4 linked regions of the Homo sapiens genome follow. The protein of the gene in region 4 purifies or fractionates together with the protein of the main gene of each other region. This does not show direct contact. Each region holds a gene or a part of one and is shown on either strand. Other genes may lie near its edges.

Region 1 (5,028 bases), on a different chromosome or scaffold from region 4:
TAGGCAACTATAGAGACATAAAGTAGATTTGTGGTTGCCTAAAGCCAGGGGAAGTGGGTTAGGGGAAACATGGAGTGACTGCTAATGGGTATGGGGTTTTTTGGAGCATGAAAACATTCTAAAATTGTGGTGATGGTTGCACAACTCTGTGAATACACAAAAACCACTGAAATGTATTCTTTATTTATTTATTTTTTTTTGAGACGGAGTCTCGCTGTCGCCCAGGCTGAAGTGCAGTGGCGCGATCTCGGCTCACTGCAGACTCCGCCCCCCAGGGTTCACGCCATTCTCCTGCCTCAGCTTCCCGAGTAGCTGGGACTACAGGCACCCGCCACCACGCCCGGCTAATTTTTTCTATTTTTTTTAGTAGAGATGGGGTTTCACCGTGTTAGCCAGGATGGTCTCGATCTCCTGACCTCGTGATCCGCCTGCCTTGGCCTCCCAAAGTGCTGGGATTACAGGCGTGAGCCACTGCGCCCGGCTATGTATTCTTTATTTTTAATTTTAATTATTTTTTTAGAGACAGGGTCTCACTCTTGTTACCCAGGCGAGAGTGCAGTGGTGTGATCATAGATCATTGCAACCTTGAACTTCCAGGCTCTAGCGATCCTCTTATCTCAGCCTCTTGAGTAGGCTGGGACTACAGGAATGTGCCACCACAATGGCCTAATTTAACAAAAAAAAATTATTTTTTTTTTTTTGTAGAAGACAAGGGTCTTGTTATGTTGCCCAGACTAGTCTCAAACTCCTGGGCTCAAGGGATCCTCCCACCTAGGTCTCCCAAAGAGCTGGGATTACAGGCATGAACTACCATGCCCAGCTGAATTGTATTCTTTAAATGGGTATTGTATTATATGTGAACTATATTCCAATAAAGTTGTTATAAAAAAACACAGGATTATAAAATACTGACACTTTCACATAAAACATTCAAGAAAAACTATTGGCACTACAAAGCAAATCAATACAACCAAATTACAACTGTTCCACACTAAAATTGCCCCCTTTTCAAAGAATTCTATTAATGTTTGTTAGCTCAAGTAACCCAGTGAGAGCGTCTGGGTAAAATATTTCCTTAATTTTTCCTACTCCAAAGACACAGGTTTGCTAAGTAGTATGACACTTGTATTTAGAAAAAAACATTACTGGAGTCAGGTTGCAAAAAAGGAAAAAGAAATGGACAAGGAGTTGGGGGACCTGGATTTAAGTCTGGGCTCTGCAATTAAATTATTATATAACTTTGGCTAAGATCACGGAACTCTATGAATCTGTCTCTTTTATCTGTAAGATGACAGGGTGGGTGAAAGACCTCTAAATAATCTTCCAGCTCTAAAAGTCTATGATGCTAACATAGTTTAATCAGGGTAATATAAACTAACGGTTTAAGTTTAGTAGTTTAAAGACTAATAGAACAAAGTAACATTTTTCTTTCTTTCTTTTTTTCTTTTTGAGACGGAGTCTTGCTCTGTCGCCTGGGCTGGAGTGCGGTGGCGTGATCTCGCCTCACCGCAACCTCCGCCTCCTGGGTTCGAGCGATTCTCCTGCCTCAGCCTCCCGAGTAGCTGGGACTACAAGCGTATGCCACTATGCCCAGCTAATTTTTGTATTTTTTAGTAAAGATGGGGTTTCACCATGTTGGTTGGCCAGGATAGTCTCGATATCTTGACATCATGATCTGCCCCCCTCGGCCTCCCAAAGTGCTGGGATTATAGGCGTGAGCCACCATGCCCAGCCAATTATTTCTTTTTTTTTTTTTTCACTCTGTCGCCCAGGCTGGAGTGCAGTGGCATGATCTGGGCTCACTGAAACCTCCGCCTCCCAGGTTCAAGCAATTCTCCCACCTCAGCCTCCCGAGTAGCTGGGACTACAGGCATACGCCACCATGCCTGGGTAATTTTTATATTTTTTGGTAGAGACAGGGTTTCACCATGTTGGCCAGGCTGGTCTCAAACTCCTGACCTCAAGTAATCTGCCCACCGTGGCCTCCCAAAGTGCCAGGATTACAGGCTTGAGCTACCGTGCCTGGCCTCAAAATTATATTTCTTGATCAAAATTTGTTCTTCTATTTCATAAATAACATCTATTTCAAGGAGGATTATAAACACGCTTGGATTTGTCATAATATAAAACCACTGAAAGGTACCTAAGAGTGTGGCCTGAGTCCTCTAGGTATACACCATAGTCCTTTGAGATCTGATGGGTCAAATCTGAAAGAAGTGGAATCCTTATTGGCCCAAGTCCTCCTTGTCTTCGAGGGGTATTAATCCTGTAACAAACAGAACGCTTACCTCTCAGAGCTAAGTAAACGGCATATATTAAAACAGCACTCTTTCTCTATACATGCACACGCACACACATGAAATACACACATTCTTTCACTAACAAAAACAGGCTAATATACTTTCTATTTTCTTGCTTTTCCCATTTAATATATTCATATCCTTTAAACATTAAAAATATATATACACAACACATTTTTATTTTATGTTTTTGAGACAGGGTCTTGCTCTGTCTCCCAGGCTGCAGGGCAGTGACGTGATCATAGCTCAGCGTAGCCTAAAACTTCTAGGCTCAAGCGATCCTCTTGCCTCAGCCCCCTGAGAAGCTGGGACTACAGGTGTGCACCATCCCACTGGGCTAATGTTTTAAACACTTTTTTGTAGAGATGGGGTGTGGCTTTGTTACCCAGGCTGGTCTCGAACTCCTGGCTTCAAGCAATCCTCCTGCTTCACCCTCCCAAAGTGCTGGGATTATAGCCGTGAGCCATTGTGCTCAGCCTACAACACATTTTTGTTTTTTCTGAGACGGAGTCTTGCTCTGTCGCCCAGGCTGGAGTGCAGCAGCGTGATCTCGGTTCACTGCAACCTCTGCCTCCCAGGTTCAAGCGATTCTCCTGCCTCAGCTTCCCAAGTAGCTGGGATTACAGGCATGTGCCACCACACCTGGCTGATTTTTGCATTTTTAGTAGAGTCAGGGATTTACCATGTTGGCCAGGCTGGTCTCGAACTCCTGACCTCAGGTGATCCACCCGGCTTGGCCTCCCAAAGTACTGGGATTACAGGCGTGAGCCACCGCGCCTGGCCTATAACACATTTTTAATGTATGGATACACAGATACTCCTTGACTTAAGATGGGGTTGTTTCTTTCTTTCTTTTTTTTTTTTGAGATGGAGTCTTGCTCTGTCACCCAGGCTGGAGTGCAATGGCACGATCTTGGCTTACTGCAACCTCTGCCTCCCAGGTTCAAGTGATTCTGCTGCCTCAACCTTGTAAGTAGCTGGGATTACAGGCACCCGCCACCACGCCCAGCTATTTTTCGTATTTTTAATAGAGATGGGGTTTCGCCACGTTGGCCAGGCTGGTCTCAAACACTTGACCTCAGGTGATCCGCCCACCTTGGCCTCCCAAAGTGCTGGGATTACAGGCCACTGTGCCCGGCTGGGGCTGTGTCTTGATAAACACATCATAAATTGAAAATATCATTAGCTAAAAATGTATTTACTATCCCATAAACCCACTGTAAAGTTGAAAAATTATACGTCAAACCATCGTAAGTCAGGAACATCTTTACTGTATTTTACTTAATTCCATGATGAAGATTTAAACCATTTACCTTTTTTTTTTGCTTTATAAACACTGCTGAAAACATCCTTGTATTCTTACTTTTATACACTTGTCTAATTGATTTCTGAAAGTGAAACTGATAGATCAAAAGATACGTAGTATCAAAAGCATAACCTTAGTAGTGTGATCATAAGATAAAGCCTTGAACAGACAGGCAGGATACAAATGGATGACATTTTAATATTCTGAGAGACAAATGCAAAGTCCACTTGAAGCAGTGAAGGAAGTGAGTTATAATATCAGATGCCTCAGTCTTCACTACAGGTTGAGTATCCCTTATCGGAAGTGCTTGGGACCAGAAGTGTTTTGGATTTAGGATTTTTTCCGATTTTGGTATATCTGCATACTTACTGGTTGAACATCCCTAATCTGAACTCTGAAATGCTTCACTAAGCATTTCCTTTGAGCATCATGTCAGCACTCAAATTTTGAATTTTGGAACACTGTGGATTTCAGGTTAGGGACGCTCAATCTGTATTCTGTAACTTGAAACCAGGAGACATGGGCTGATGCTCTAACAGGAGGGTACTGACACAGCAGATAGAAAACAAAACGACATTGCTCTAGATATCTGGAGCCCCAGTTCTGACACCCAAGTAGAAATTTCTGGTTGATGTGAACCCTATCAGGCTGAGAATGTATCCCCAAATTTCCTTGGGAAAGCAATCCCAAATTATTTGGGATGCCATAACTTTTTCCTTAGTGGATATGCATTTTAATCCTCGGAAGATTTATAATTACTACAGAAGTGATGAAGCACAGCCCGGGCAACATGGCAAGACTCCATCTCTACAAAAATAAAAATTAAAATAGGTATGGTGGTGCAAGCTTGCAGTCCCAACTATTTGGGGAGGTAGAAGGATTGTTGGAGCCCAGGAGTTCAAGGCTGCAGGGAGCTATGATTGATTGTGCCACTGCACTCCAGCCTGGGCAACATAGTAAGACCCTGTCTTTCTTTTTTTAAAGGAAATGATGAAGCAAATTAAGCCTATATTTTAATTTTTTTTTTTTTTTTGAGACAGGATCTCACTCTATTGCCCAGGCTGAAGTGCAGTGGTATGATCTTGGCTCACTACAGCCTCGACCACCTAGGCTCAGGTCATCCTTCCATCTCAGGCTCCCGAGTAGCTGGGACCACAGGCATGCACCACCAGACCTGGCTAATTTTTTTTATTTTTTGTATAGATGGGGTCTCACTATGTTGCCCAGGCTGGTCTTGAACTCCTGGGTTGAAATGATTCTCCTGCTTTGACCTCCCAAAGTGCTGGGATTATAGGCGTGAGCCACCATGCCAGGCTATTTTAATATTTTTACATTAAGAAATAATCAGTACATATTTATATGTTAAGTTATTTATAATGTTTAAGAGAATTTGGCATATTAGAACTACTTAAGTATTTGGGA
Region 2 (5,028 bases), on a different chromosome or scaffold from region 4:
TTGAGAAATTGACAAAAGATTTGGTCAAACGTAAATGAATATGCAATAAGTCACATAAGTCTGTGTGTATATACATATATGACTTTAATTTTATAAGTGCATGTGTATACGCACACCTTTAGCTCATTTAAATAAAAAGCTATCCAATGTTTTATGTCCATTATGTCCCCCGTTAACATTGAGCAAAATGTTAACCCCTACTATATATGCAAGGGAAATAAATTAAGTTGTTATATAGAAACCCTTGACACTATATGCAATTTCTTATGTCCCATATTCTGATAATATCTGTCCTCTTGGCTCTTACTTCTTGGAATTTCTCATAAACACGGAAGCTTCATGACAAATTGTGTAAATCATCATTTCCTCCTTTATGAAGTATATTGAAGACAAAAGGGATTAAAGTCATTTCACATTTAGCAAAGCTATTTTATGGCAACATTGTTACAACACAAAATAGACATTGCAGTTTACAATTAACAATTACACAGTGATTTCATAACAATACTACTTACTCCAATTAACAAAATATTTCTTTATAAAAAATATGTTCAAAAGGAGGTTTACATTCACTTCTTCGTTTAATATCAAGGTTGTTAACAATGGTCTTAGGAGATGCAAAGACGAAAAACTACTTACCTTAAAAATCTGTATTCTTGAAGATATATACTCCACTTGAATAAGATACTGCTCAAGGTTTAGGCTTCCTGGAGAACTCAGAGGATTTTGTAGTTGTACTTAATATACTCAATAGCCAAATTTCCTAAACTTTCATAATTTTGCTAACCAAGGGCCCTTAACAAAGTTAAAAGACACCACAGGGTTCAAAAGTGAACAAATATGTTGTTTTTGTTTTAAGACGGAGTCTCATTCTTGTCACCTAGGCTGGAGTGCAGTGGCGCAATCTCTGCTCACTGCAACCTCCATCTCCCGGGTTTAAGTGATTCTCACACCTCAGCCTTCCGAGTAGCTGGGATTACAGGCGCGCGCCACCAAGCCCAGCTAATTTTTACATTTTTAGTAGAAATGGGGTTTCACCATGTTGGCCACGCTGGTCTCAAACTCCTGACCTCAAGAGATCCGCCCGCCTCGGCCTCCCAAAGTGCTGGGATTACAGGCATGCGCCACTGTGCCTGGTCACAAATATGTTAATGAGCCAATTAAGATGGTGCTGCTCAAATGATTCTAATTCAGGAAACTTAGGTTGCAGCTAGGTAATCTCTAGTTCTCTAAAGAATAATACCCAAATGACAGGATTTATGTGTTGATGCAATAATAGCTCAGTCTGTTTCATGACCTAGCTAGAGTCAGAATTGGAGCGGTGGCTATAGCACAGGGGTGGCTTTCTCCTCTCTGAAGGAAAAGTAAAGAAGTAAGAAGAAAGAGGTTGAAAGAACAGCCTACACAGTTGTTGCCCAGATCTCAAAATTAGCAACAAGTATGTCAGCTGTCCTAATTATTACCAAACAGGTCCTGGGAGTGTCTGACACACAACATAATATAGGTGCAATCAGTTCCAGAATCTGGTTCCTGGATCTGAACTAATTTAGCTATAAGACCTTCAGCAAGACCATCTCTATGGCCTGCATCTCTCTCCTATAGGTTTGACAAAGATTCACCTATGAGTTTGATGAAGACAGGCTAGGTATGGCCCTCAATAAGAATTTATTCTGACTGGGAGATTTAAAACTGTAAATGCTTGCCGGGCGTGGTGGCTCACGCCTGTAATCCCAGCACTCTGAGAGGCCGAGGCGGGCGGATCATGAGGTCGGGAGATCGAGACCATCCTGTATAACACAGTGAAACCCTGTCTCTACTAAAAAGTACAAAAAAATTAGCCGGGCGTAGTGGCGGGCGCCTGTAGTCCCAGCTACTCGGGAGACTGAGGCAGGAGAATGGCGTGAACCCACGAAGCGGAGCTTGCAGTGAGCCGAGATTGTGCCACTGCACTTGGGGACAGAGCGAGACTCTGTCTTAAAAAAAAAACAAAACAAAACTGTAAATGCTTGAGTTCTACCTCCTCCAGATTCTAATTTTATTTAATTGGACATCTGGTTATTGTATTTTTTAACTCCTCAGGTTATGTAATAATACGCATCCAGTGTTGAGGAACACTGACAAAAAGGTTAGAGTTCAGTGAGACACTGAGGCCTCTTCAGTACATAAAAATAGGGTTGGAAGTTAGCATCTTGACACTCTTTGGGGGATTCTATATCTCTTCACTTGCCATTAAGTGAAACGTTCAGAAATTTAAGAGTCAACAATGCCACCATTACTGCTGTCAAAGTCCTTCAGTGATTAAAAAGATACCAGAAAGATACCCTGATCCCTTGATCATCTGGTGGTGTTAAACTACTTCAGTAAGAACAAAAGATGTGCTTTCCAAGGGTGGAGACATCCAACTTGTATTCAGTTCCCCATTACATTCTGGATTTGGGTCAATGAAAGAAGCATCCATTGGGGTGATAGCTAAGGCGTGTCCTCGCCACATATCAATGAGATTTCTGGAGGGGAGTAGTGTGGGAAAGTGGTTATAACATTGCGCAAGCAGATGTCAGAGAATTTCTGAAAGACAGGGCTATCTCTAGAAACTCACTGTAAGTAAGGAGACAATTAACACTTTTGAAGCCCATTTATCCCTGATGGTCAATTACACACTAAGAACTTCCTTTTTTTTTTTTTTTTGAGACTGAGTCTCGCTCTTTCACCAGGCCGGAGTGCAGTGGCACTATCTCAGCTCACTGCAAGCTCCGCCTCCTGGGTTCAGGCCATTCTCCTGCCTCAGCCTCCCGAGTAGCTGGGACTACAGGCACCCGCCACCGCGCCCAGCTAATTTGTTGTATTTTTAGTAGAGATGGGGTTTCACCGTGTTAGCCAAGATGGTCTCGATCTCCTGATCTCGTGATCCACCCACCTCGGCCTCCCAAAGTGCTGGGATTACAGGCATGAGCCACCGCGCCCGGCCAAGAACTTCCTTTTAAGATTTGCCCTGAAGGGCCCTAGAGCATTTCCTCTTCCATGCAGAGAATCAGAAAGCTTGGATTCTAGCTCTAGCTCCCAACAATTAGCTGTATGTAATTGATGATGGGTGACTTCATTAGTGTCAAAGCCAAAGCATATTCTCTGTCAGCTTTTCAAAAAAACACGCAGTAAAGAGAGATTCCTACCAGGAAAACTTTGATGGGTGTTTTTCAAGTGTCATCTCACAGCAGAAGATGCCCCAAGTGGTCAAACCTTGCCAACAGCTTCAAAAAAAGGTAACTAGGATTTAACTTTACGGTGCATTTTGATGTTTCCCTTTGTGTCATATCTGATGATAAAAGAACCTTAAAAAAAAAAAAAAAAAACACTATCCAGCTTCTCCATTCTGTCTCCTGCTTTACTTTCTCTTGTTTACAAAATACAAATTTATAGCTGGATTTGATGCTGAAAATTTAATACAGTTACCTCATGTCACAGATAAAGAACAGAAATGACTTGACCAAGTTCACATTGTTGTTTAACGGCAGGAAAAGCACTAAAGATGGATAGTCCTGCCTTCCTAATTTGAATGCTCTTATTCTCTACAGGTTAGGGTCAAGTTATTCAGTAAAACAGGCTATCAGGAGGTTAAGCCCAAACAGTGAGGAAACAAATTTTATGATGCTTGTTTGACTAAATGCATGCAGTTTACCTCAAGATTAAGGGATTTAAAAAAGGTTAGAAAACAGTGTAACCCTATCTCCTGGATATATCTACAGACTTGTATTTAGGAATTATGCCAGGCTGTTATTTCTAACAGAGCTGATGATCATAGATGTGGCCTTTAAGGCAGGACTGGGTATTTGGTTCTTAAAAATGATTCTGTGCCTGCCAATCTTAGGAATAAATAATGCTTTCAATGATCTACATTCTCTGTCTACCTAAAAAGTACAAAGAAAAAGAATATATTTAATCAAAGAGAGATGTGTCCCAGGTAGATGGTAAGCAACGGGAATAAAGTCATGATATGCCCAGAATAACCAATGATGAATGTTATTAGCCAGGTAGCCACCATTCTAGTCTTAGTAAAATAAGCATCCCATAAATGTTTATATAATTTTAGGTGTCAGAATACACATCAGGACAATCTGGACTAAGGAAACCTGAAATTTAATTCTGAAATTAATTAAGTAACCATGCCTAAGGTGAGCTTGTTTTCTTAACTGTAAAATGGAAGTGCAACCTTTAACTTTCCTCAGTGGCTCAGATGAAATACTGTGAAGGTACAGAGTAATGCTATATGGCACAAAGCAAAAAGTGCTGTGCAAAAGAAGACAGTGTGCTAAATATTAGGAAATTTCTGAGTTCCAGAAAATTTGGATTTTTAAGAAACTATGTCATGTCAAGATGTGCTTTGGAGTAACAATTTTCCCAATATTATATTAAGTATATACTAAGTATATATTAGAAGGGATTATATAAAAGGTGTTCAAAAAACAAATATCAGGAAAACACTAATTTAAGCAGAATTTAACAATTGTTTTTAACTTCAGAATTTCTCAGAGCTTTGAATATTATATACCATGAATCTCCAGGAAAGGACAAGTGAGCTTATGTTCCCCAAACTTATATGACCACCTAATCCTTTTTACATGGACCTTCTCAGTGGAGCAGTGTTCCATAGAACACACATTCTTACTCTCTATTTTTCCAAAATTCCTACTGTTTGCTTCAATACAAAATCATAAGACACTGTGGCTAGAAATTTTTTTTCATATAAACATAAACGTGTACTGACACATGTTGGTAAGCATTTTATAGGTTGTCTATTCTAGCTTTCAAATAACATGACTCTAAATCTGTAAAGACCAGATCACTAACATAGCCTCTTTCCAGAAGGCCATAATGAGTACCTCCTCATCAGATAGAGAATGTACCCTTTAAGTTTTGTAGGAGTCAAGTACCCCTTTGTCTTGGGGACAGATTTCTGTTAAGACAGACAGAAACTCTTCCCTTGCTGGTCCAGCAGCAGTTTTCTTGTTCCCTGGACCAGCCAGAATAAAAAGA
Region 3 (5,028 bases), on a different chromosome or scaffold from region 4:
TTAGGAGTTTGCAACAATAGACTAGGAAGGTAGTGAGTTCTCTGTCCTAAGAGATATGTAAGAACAGACTTGGCCATCATGTATTAGGAAGTAGGTCAAGTGATTAATGTGGGTGACATTGCACATCATTTTAAACACCAGCTTTCTGTAATTTCAGGATAAGGACCTTGTCATATTCACCATGGTCTCCTCTGCTCCCTTGATGCTAGCACAGTGAGTGCTGTGTGCACTGTGTCCCCCCAGAATGTTGAATGAGTGAATGAATGAATGAATGAATGAATGAAGGAGCAATGTCCATGTCCAGTGAGCTCAGTAATGAAGAATGGAAGGTCCACTGGCCGGGCTCAGTGGCTCACACCTGTAATCCCAGCACTTTGGGAGGTCGAGGTGGGCGGATCACATGAGGCCAGGAGTTCAAGACCAGCCTGGCCAACATGGTAAAATCCCGTCTCTACTAAAAATACAAAAATTAGCCGAGCATGGTGGCACACTCCTGTAGTCCCAGCTACTTGGGAGGCTGAGGCACAAGAATCATTTGAACCTGAGAGGCAGAGGTTGCAGTGAGCCAACATTGCGCCACTGGACTCCAGCCTGGGTGACAAGAGCGAGACTCCGTCTCAAAAAAACAAAAACAAAAACAAAAAAAGAATGGAAGCTCCAAAGAAGAGGGGTTATTTGCAGAGTTCGAGTGGTAGGAGGGGAACAGGCCCTGTGCTTCCCCATCTGAATACAGGTTCCAGGGCTGCTGAAAGATTAGCCGCAAGATACATAAGTTACCTGGCACTGTATCTGGCAGGTGTTCCCTCATTGGTCGCTTTTTGCTGTAAGGTCAGAGACCAGGCCAGATGAACACCTGCAATCTGCCCACCTTTAAAGAATGTAGGGGCTAAGGATGCAGGCTCCAAATGAGATGGAGCCGAGTTGAAGCTCTGGCTTATGAGCCTCAGTTTCCTCACCTGCAAAATGGGTATAATAATAGTAGCTACTGGCCGGGCGCCGTGGCTCACACCTGTAATCCCAGCACTTTGGGAGGCCGAGGCGGGCAGATCACTTGAGTCCAGGAGTTTGGGACCAGCCTGGGCAACAGAGTGAAACCCTGTCTCTACAAAAAATACAAAAATAAGCCAGCCGTGGTGTGGCGCCCATCTGTAGTCCCAGCTACTCAGGAGGCTGAGGTGGGAGGATCACTTGAGATCGGGAGGCGGAGGTTACAGTGAGCTGAGATTGCATCACTGCATTCCAGCCTGGATGACAGAGCAAGACCCTGTTTCAAAATAATAATAACAATAGCTCCCTCTTGGGACTCCTAGGAGATGTGAAGAGATCACATAGGTAAGGGCTTCACCCTGGAGGCCATTGTTAGTGTCCAATCCTCCCCACCCTGCCCATCTGGTCCTGAAAGGACTCATTTGAGTCTCTCCAAGCATCTGAAGGGAAGGCAGGCCAGAGATTAAAACCCCCATTTTACAGGTGAGGAAACAGGTGAGAGGGTAAGTGTACAGTCATTTTCCCGTTAGAGCAGAGACGACGAATTCACACTCTCACTGGATTTCTTTTTTCTTTTCTTTTTTTTTTTTTTTTAAGATGGAGTCTCTCTCTGTCTCCCAGGCTGGAGTACAGTGGCATGATCTCAGCTCACTGCAACCTCCACCTCCCAGGTTTAAGCTATTCTCCTGCCTCAGCCTCCCAAGTAGCTGGGATCACAGGTGCCCACCTCTATGCCCAACTAATTTTTGTATTTTTATAGAGACGGGGTTTCACTATGTTGGCCAGGCTGGTCTCGAGCCCCTGACCTCAGGTGATCGGCCCACCTTGGCCTCCCAAAATGCTGGGATTACAGGCGTGAACCGCCGCACCTGGCCTCACTGGATTTCTATACAAACTCAAGAAGCAGATCATGATTCTCATTTGGTAGATAAGGCAATAGAAGTGTGGGGAGGGCCGGGCGCGGTGGCTCACACCTGTAATCCCAGCACTTTGGGAGTCTGAGGCGGAGGGGTGGGAGCGGGGGGATCAACTGAGGTCAGGAGTTCGAGACCAGCCTGGCCAACATGGTGAAACCCCGTCTCTACTAAAAATACAAAAATTAGCTGGGCATGGTGGCAGGCGCCTGTAATCCCAGCTACTGGGGAGGCTGAGGCAGGAGAATCGCTTGAACCCAGGAGGTGGAGGTTGCAGTGAGCTGAGATCGCGCCATTGCACACCAGCCTGGGGGACAAGAGCAAGACTTCTTAAAAAAAAAAAAAAAAAAGTGCACGGAGGAATGAATGAGCTCAGGATCACATTCCTAAGAAGTTAATGATGGAACCAGGGGCTTGTCTTTGGAGCTCACAGCTTCTCGGATCTGAAGCTGGGGTGTCTTGGGGGAGGGGCACGGGTCCCAGCATTGGTAATGTAGCTGCTGGCTGGAGGGCTTAGTCACCCGTAGTGAACCCTCTGGGGCCTCCCCAAGCTGCTGGGCAAACTTCCTACCCACAGGGTGGCCAGTGCAGATCTGCCTCCAAGGGGCGACAGGAAGCCGGGGTGAACAAGGGACAAACTGGGTCTGGTCGCACCTGGTTACCCGATAGGAGGGAAGGCCCCCGGACAGTGGGCCCATGTGTGGGTGACTTCTGTCCCCAGTCCCTTGCTCAGCACTGTCCTCTCACCTCTGTAGGAGTTTCTGTGTGACCAGAAGTACAGTGATGAAGAGAACCTTCCAGAAAAGCTCACAGCCTTCAAAGGTAAGCTGGGGCGGGCTGCCCTGCATTTATTCCTGGGGGAGGTGGGCTGGCCCCTCATCCTTGCACACAGGACCCCTCAGCCCCACAGGACTAGGCTGTGGCCCTGTTTTGTCCAGAATGCCCTTCTTCCTGGAGAAGGCTTGGAGACAGGGACCCCCTGAGAGGTGGGGAGAGGCCCCTCCACCTGCCTCCCTGCCCCTGCGGGCCCCGTCACCCCTCGCCTGCAGCCCGGTCCTGGCCCTGCCCCTCTCTCTCCCCTCACTGCCCACGGGGCTCAGGCTGGTTCCCGTCCGCCGCTGCCCAGGCCCCGTCACTCCCGGGCCCCGCACACAATCAGCTCTTTGTGAGCAAGCCTTGCCTCTCCCCCTCCCCAGCAGAGCGTCTCAGGAGCCCCTGCGGAGAATGGACGTTTGTGTCACCGCAGTGGGGCAGGGGGGCAGAGTTTCTGCCCATTGAAACCCGGCAGCACGGGATGAAAAGAAAGCAGGGCCTGGGAGCCGGCGCGGGGAGAGGGGCAGCATAAAGGTCCCTCTGTTTGGGGCCCTGGCGCTTGGTTCCCAGCCAGCACCTCGAAAGGAGAGGAGCCGGGCACATAGGGGGCAGCGCAGACCCACCTTCCCTGCCAGGGGAGGCACTTAGGCGCAGGAGCCCTGGGCTGTCATGGAAAATATCCTGGAGGTTGCATTCCCCTCCAAAGTGTTTGCAGTGTGAGCATCCTCCCGGCTCCAGGGCAAAGAACTTGGCCAAGTGTTCCTCAAATCACTTCCAGTTGTCCTTAGGCTGGACATCTAGGGCTAATCATATTAATAACAGCTGGCATTTGTTGGACGTCGGCCTGTGTGAAGCACTTCTCGTGCGGCGTGGCGAGCTCCCCACATCACCCCAATCGGCCTGGAGGAAGATGGCGCACTTGTTAATGTGCAGATGGAGAAACTCGGGCTTGGAGGGCGGGGTTGTTGGCATGGGGACACATAGCTCGCCTAGGGCAGAGTTGGGACTTGAACTCATGTCGGTCTGGCTCCAAAGCCCCTGCTCTCAACTGTTACGCTATGATGCTTTTTACATGAAGAAGAGAGAAGGGAAATAGTAAAAGACACTCCTGACCCCACCCCATCCCAGCCACCTGTAGGAGAGCTGTGAAAAAGAGAGCAGTCTATTCCCTTCTGTCTGCATACCAGCGTGGCCACTCCCAGGGGTGGCTCTGGGAGGAGGCACGGGTCTCAGGGCTCTGGCACCCTTTCTACTTGTCTTCACTGGAATGTTGGGCCAGACAGGAAGTTACATCATTCACTCATTTGTTCTCCAAATGCGCACCTGTACATGTGCCAGGACCATTCCAGGCCAGGGGCACCATGGTGAACGTAAAAGGCAGCTCCCACCCGGGAGCCTGTGTTCTCGCTCGGGGGGCGGTGTGAGAGGTGGTGGGAGACTAAACAGAGAGCCGGGAAATACAAGGTTAGCAGACTGTGGTAGGTGCTTCAGTGAGAAATGAGGGAGGGAGGACAGGAGTGCTCAGCTGTGGGGAGGGGGTGCAATTTTGAAAGGGTGGGGAGGCCAGGCACGGTGGCTCACACCTGTAATCCCAGCACTTTGGGAGGCCGAGGTGGGTGGATCACCTGAGGTCGGGAGTCCAAGACCAGCCCGGCCAACATGGCGAAACCCCATCTCTATTAAAAATACAAAAATTAGCTGTATGTGGTGGTGGGTGCCTGTAATGCCAGCTACTCGGGAGGCTGAGACAGGAGGATTGCTTGAACCCAGGAGGCAGAGGTTGCAGTGAGCTGAGATCAAGCCACTGCACTCAAGCCTTGGTGACAGAATGAGACTCCATCTCAAAAAAAAAAAAAAAAAAAAAAAGCATAATGGTTAAGAACGGGGGCTTTGGAGCCAGACTAACATGGGTTCAAGTCCCAACTCTGCCCTAGGTGAGCTGTGTATCCCCCCTGAGATCACGCCACTACACTTCAGCTTGTGTGACAAAGTGAGATGGAGCAAGACTCCTTCTAAAAAAAAGAAGAAAAAGAAAGGGTGGGGAGCCCTGAAGCCATGAGGAAGGGTGCTGAGAATACTTGGGAGAACATTCCAGGCAGAGGGGCAGCGAGCTGGAGCAGGCAGGGAGTGGGCGGGGGCAGCACAGCCTGCAGGAGGGCCTCGGCTTTCTCTGCTGGCTGCTTGTGGGGCAGGATGGACCATGAGGGCCCCACTCTGCCCGGGCAGGGGGTGACCTGCAGAGGCCCCACGGTCCGTTTGACACACTGCTCCCATCTGAACATACCAAGCCCACTGCTCCGACATCCTCCCTCAC
Region 4 (5,028 bases):
CTGTGGGCCATGTCACCCAGTCTGGGGTACAGTGGCACAATCTTGGCTCACTGCAGCCTCCACCTCCCAGGTTCTTAGCCTCCCAAGTAGCTGGGATTACAGGTGTGCGCCACCACACGCACCTAATTTCTGTATTTTTAGTAGAGATGGGGTTTTACCATGTTAGCCAGGCTGGTCTCGAACTCCTGACCTCAGGTGATCCACTGGCCTCAGCCTCCCAAAGTGCTGGGATTACAGGTGTGAGCCACCGCACCCAGCCAGTGGAAAAGAGCTCTGACGGGAGCCCAGCCCTCTGGGGCAGCACATGTGTCGTAAAATGCTGGGTGATGCTCATCAGCACAGCACCCAACGGACCACTCAGAAGCACATCCTCCGTGGAGGAATCAGCGTTACCTAGGTGAGGCCAGAGAGGAAACAGGACAGTGCTTGTACAAGTGGCTGCCTGAAGTCTGAATCTTCACACTGGACTCCTCACACACAAAAAGTACCACATGCAACACAGAATTGTTTTGTTTTTTTGAGACGGAGTCTTACTCTGTCCCCCAGGCTGGAGTGCAATGGCATGATCTCGGCTCACTGCAACCTCTGCCTCCTGGGTTCAAGCTATTCTCCTACCTCAGCTTCCCGAGCAGCGGGATTACAGGCATGTGCCATCATGCCCAGCTAATTTTCATATTTTTAGTAAAGACAGGGTTTCACCATTTTGGCCAGGCTGGTCTCGAACGCCTGACCTCGTGATCCACCTGACTCAGCCTCCCAAAGTGCTGCGATGACAGGCGTGAGGCACCGCACCAGGCCCACAGATCTTAATTTAAAAAGTTTTATGAAAAAAATCAATGCCCTTTGAAAAACAGGCTGGGTGCGGTGGCTGATGCCTATAATCCCAGTACTTTGGGAGGCCAAGGCAAGTGGATCACTTGAGGCCAGGTGTTCAACACCAGCCTGGACAACATTGTGAGACCCCATCAATATAGAAAATAAAGTTTTTTAAAAAGGTAATGCTGGAGGAAAGCTTAGGATTGACAGGAAACACAGCCTTCAAGGGAAAATGCTTGCATTACACTGAAAAGTCTCTTTAAAACAAAAACTGACGAAACAAAGCAGTACTCACATATACTTTAGGCTTCGTTTCCACAAAAGGCTCTTCAAAGTCAGAAAAATGGAACCAGCATAATAGAAAAACTACAAATGGCCAACACAGATAAAAATAAGTTCAACCGGCATGGTGGCTCAAGCTTGTAATCTCAGCACTTTGGGAGGCTGAGGCAGGTGGATCGCCTGAGGTCAGGAGTTTGAGACCAGCCTGGCCAACATGGTGAAACCCCGTCTCCACTAAAAATACAAAAATTACCCAGGTGTGGTGGCAGGTGCCTGTAATCGCAGCTACTTGGGAGGCTGAGACAGGAGAATTGCTTCAACTCACTTGAACCCAGGAGGTGGAGATTGCAGTGAGCCAAGATTTCACCACTGCATTCCTGCCTGGGTGACAGTGAGACTCTGCCTCAAAAATAAAATAAAATAAAGTAAAATAAGTTCAACCTCAGGGAGGTGCAGATAAAATCAAGGAGGTATTCAGCATGTATCAGATTGGCAAGGGCTGGACAGTTTGGCACTTCTTGCAGGGCTTAGGAAGTGGGGAAACGGAAGGCATGATAATGAGTGCCTGGGGTGGGTGGGCACAACCACCGAGACATCAACCAGCAACGCCCACCAGTTTCTAAATCTGCATGTCCTGGAAATGAATCAAGTATCCAATAACAGAGTAACTGTTAAATTACGGTAAGTGGTTAAATAGAATATGAAGCAACCATTAAAAAAGCAATTAGTTGGTGGGGCACGGTGGCGCATGCCTGTAGCCGAGGCGGTTGGATCACCTGAGGTCAGGAGTTAGAGACCAGCCTGACTAAGGTGGTGAAACCCTGTATCTACTAAATACAAAAAATTAGCCAGGCGTGGTGGCGCATGCCTGTAATCCCAGCTACTTGGGAGGCTGAGGCAGTAGAATCACTTGAACCCAGGAGGCAGAGGCTGCACTCCAGCCTGGACGACAGATTGAGACTTCATCTAAAAATAATAATAATAAAATAAAAGTAAAAAACCAACTAGTTGAAGTGAATTCTATTGTATTAACAGAGTAAAAATGCCCCAAGTCCCAATGTTAAGTGGGGAAAAAGCAAGCTGTGGGTGACTGAGGACCATAAGCATCTGACCCTCTCAGCAATCTACACATGTAGGAACACTCCTGCCACTACATGCAAAATGCCAAGGAAGATGCACGGCAGTCGGTCACTACGGTGGGGAGACTTTTTTTCACAACATACCCTTACTTTTAAGAAAAAAAAAAAAGTGAGTATGTTCCTATTATTTCAGTTTTGTTTCTTCTAGGAAAAATAGTTGGCAGTATTACTAAAGGCCCTGAGCCACCAAACTGATAAAAGGACATTTGTTTTAATGATTCCTCAGAGCATTTCCAATTTGGTCTTCCTTCCCACCAATGAGGCTTCCTCCCTAGTGACTTTGAGATGGGAGTCTCGCTCTGTGGCACATGCTGGAGTACAGTGGCGCAATCTTGGCTCACTGAAACCTCTACCTCCCAGGTTCAAGTGATTCTTGTGCCTCAGCCTCCTGAGTAGCTGGGATTACAGGCCTGTGCTACCACGTTTGGCTAATTTTTGTAGTATAGTCCGTGTTTCGTTATGTTGGCCAGGCTGGTCTTGAACTCCTGGCTTCAAGGGATCTAACTGCCTCAGCTTCCCAAAGTGCTAGGATTACAGGCATGAGCCACTGGACCTGGCCCCTAGTGACTTTCTTAATAATCTTCCCCTTTTCCGTGACTCGTGGGTAGGCAGCGTCTCACGTGGCCATGCATGTCAGTGACCCACACAGCCTCCACACTGTGAGGTTAGCATGTCTCGTGGGCAGACAGCAGTGTCCTTGGATGTACCCGGGGGCTTTGTGCTGTAGAGATGTTATTTTAAATAATAAGCCAAGTCGAGGATGGGAGCGTTTCCATGGCAACTTGAATTTTAAAACCAAGATTTCTTTGGTTACTGTGGTGGCTGAGAACACAGGCAGCTGCCATGTCCAGTGGCTCTCAACTCCTGGAGGACAACCTGCCGTGGCCATTCCCTGGAGTCCCACAGGGCCCCCTCGCCACTTCACTAGCAGGCGACTTCCCTGCACCCGCCCTCCTTTTCATGGTTCCCAGGCCCTCCCACACCTCCCTGTGCTCCCTACTCATTCCCAGGCTCCCCGGGGCCACCGCTGCCAGCCCCAGGGCCCAGCCCATTCCACTAGTCCCAGGCTGAGCGCTGGGAAGTTCTTTCAGCCCCGCACCTTGGCCCAGGGCTGTGGTGTTCCTGGCTTCTCTGCTCCTCCCCTATGGTATCCAGGTTGGGGCTCAAGGGGCCGCCAGCGTGCTGCAACCGGACGATAAAATGAGCCCTGCACTTGGAGTCAGGAGACCTGCATTTGGATCTGGCTCTGCCACTGACTAAATGGCACCCTTGGGGTCTGACCTTCCCCAAGCCTCAGTTTCACCACCTATAAAATGGAGCTAGTAACCATCGTGTCTCAGGTGGCAGTCAAGAATGAAATGAGGAGGACCAAAGCGCCGGCACATGCCTGGCATGCAGTGATAAGGTAGGAAGGGCACTCGCTCCAGCGGGCTCTGTTCCCTCCCTCTCTCCTCTAACACTTCTAGCTCTCAGTTCACACTAAACCTATTCCAATAGGTCCCCAACGCCAGGAAGAGTCTAAATGAAAACAAGTTTGTTTTTTTTGTTTGTTTTAAGACAGGATCTCACTCTGTTGCCCAGGCTGGAGTGCAGTGGCACGATCATGGCTCACTGCAAACTCTGCCTCCTGGGCTCAAGAGATCTGCTCCCCTCAGCCTCCTAAGGAGCTGGGACTACAGGCATACACCACTACGCCCAGCTTTGTATTTTTTGTAGAGATGGGGTTTTGCTATGTTGCCCAGGCTGGTCTCAAACTCCTGGACTCAAGTGATCTGCCCGCCTTGGCCTCCCAAAGTGTCGGGATTATAGGTGTGAGCCACCATGCCCAGTAAAACAAGCTCTTAACTTCAATTAACCCCAGCATTTAACATCCAAAAATGCTTCCACTCTTGAGGGTCCCGAGACTGCTGAGAACTCAAAAAGTGTCAAGCCAAACACAGAGGTCCTGACAGCAGTGGCAATCTCACTCCATTGTGCAACAGGCGCCTTTCTCTCCACAACAACGCAAATCTCAATCACTCTGGACAAATGCAGATGGTGAAAGTGACAAGCTGAGCTGTTAACAGCTTTCCAGGGTCTTTGCATGGGACAGCAACCCATTTTCACTTCCCTTTATATAGGCACCCACTTCCCTTTTATTTCTTAATTCTGTGCTTTCTGCTCTGCTTCTTACAAGAGATGATGAACACAAAGTCCTTATTTCACGAGGGAAGGATGTGAACTCTTGTGTGCCACAAGACCCCTTTCCAGGATGCGGGCTGGTGGAAGAACAGCTGCGAGCAGATGTCATCTCTAGACCTTGGTCTGCTGTGCTGCTTAGGCAGACCTGAGTTCCAGTGCACCCCTCTGCCCCTTTTCCAAGCTAATCTTTGGGTTAAAAAAAACAGAAAAGGGTGCTCCTCATATCCTCTCTCTCCAAACCTGCAGAGCACTTATGAGAAAGCACGCTCCACCCCGGCTCTGTAGAACGTTGTTATGTGCCAAAAAGAGTGTGCGGCCAGGCGACTCTATCAACCAGAGCACCTTCCTCCCCCGGCAAACGGCACCCTAGACTACCTTGAAGCCGTTTCCAGGACAAATAGGGACCTTGCGATCCTGGAAGGAGGTGGAATGAAAGTCAAAGGAGAGGAGGTGCGGCTAAGTCACAGGAGGTGTTAAGTCCTGACACCCTTAAAGAATCAGTTTTGGGCTGCCACCAAGCTCAATAAAGAAGGCTTTCTGGCCAGGCACAGTGGCTCATGCCTGTAATCCCAGCGCTTTGGGAGGTCAAGGCAGGCGGATCACCTGAGGT

Evidence for each region.
Region 1: the proteins of CTSB (region 4) and PRDX4 purify together in Homo sapiens (affinity purification with mass spectrometry, with the first as the bait; one large-scale study listed by BioGRID). This does not show direct contact.
Region 2: the proteins of CTSB (region 4) and GMPS fractionate together in Homo sapiens (co-fractionation; one large-scale study listed by BioGRID). This does not show direct contact.
Region 3: the proteins of CTSB (region 4) and AIF1L purify together in Homo sapiens (affinity purification with mass spectrometry, with the first as the bait; one large-scale study listed by BioGRID). This does not show direct contact.

What each region holds. Positions count from the first base shown.
Region 1 is NC_000023.11:23,676,403-23,681,430, reverse strand, and holds part of PRDX4 (peroxiredoxin-4 precursor), read right to left. Parts: intron 2,267-5,028; coding exon 2,144-2,266; intron 1-2,143. UniProt on the Homo sapiens protein: Thiol-specific peroxidase that catalyzes the reduction of hydrogen peroxide and organic hydroperoxides to water and alcohols, respectively.
Region 2 is NC_000003.12:155,939,060-155,944,087, reverse strand, and holds the end of GMPS (GMP synthase [glutamine-hydrolyzing]), read right to left. Parts: 3' UTR 68-5,028; downstream 1-67. UniProt on the Homo sapiens protein: Catalyzes the conversion of xanthine monophosphate (XMP) to GMP in the presence of glutamine and ATP through an adenyl-XMP intermediate.
Region 3 is NC_000009.12:131,108,941-131,113,968, forward strand, and holds part of AIF1L (allograft inflammatory factor 1-like), read left to right. Parts: intron 1-2,656; coding exon 2,657-2,723; intron 2,724-5,028. UniProt on the Homo sapiens protein: Actin-binding protein that promotes actin bundling. May neither bind calcium nor depend on calcium for function.
Region 4 is NC_000008.11:11,854,522-11,859,549, forward strand, and holds part of CTSB (cathepsin B isoform 1 preproprotein), read right to left. Parts: intron 3,420-5,028; exon of another isoform or gene 3,337-3,419; intron 1-3,336. UniProt on the Homo sapiens protein: Thiol protease which is believed to participate in intracellular degradation and turnover of proteins. Cleaves matrix extracellular phosphoglycoprotein MEPE. Involved in the solubilization of cross-linked TG/thyroglobulin in the thyroid follicle lumen.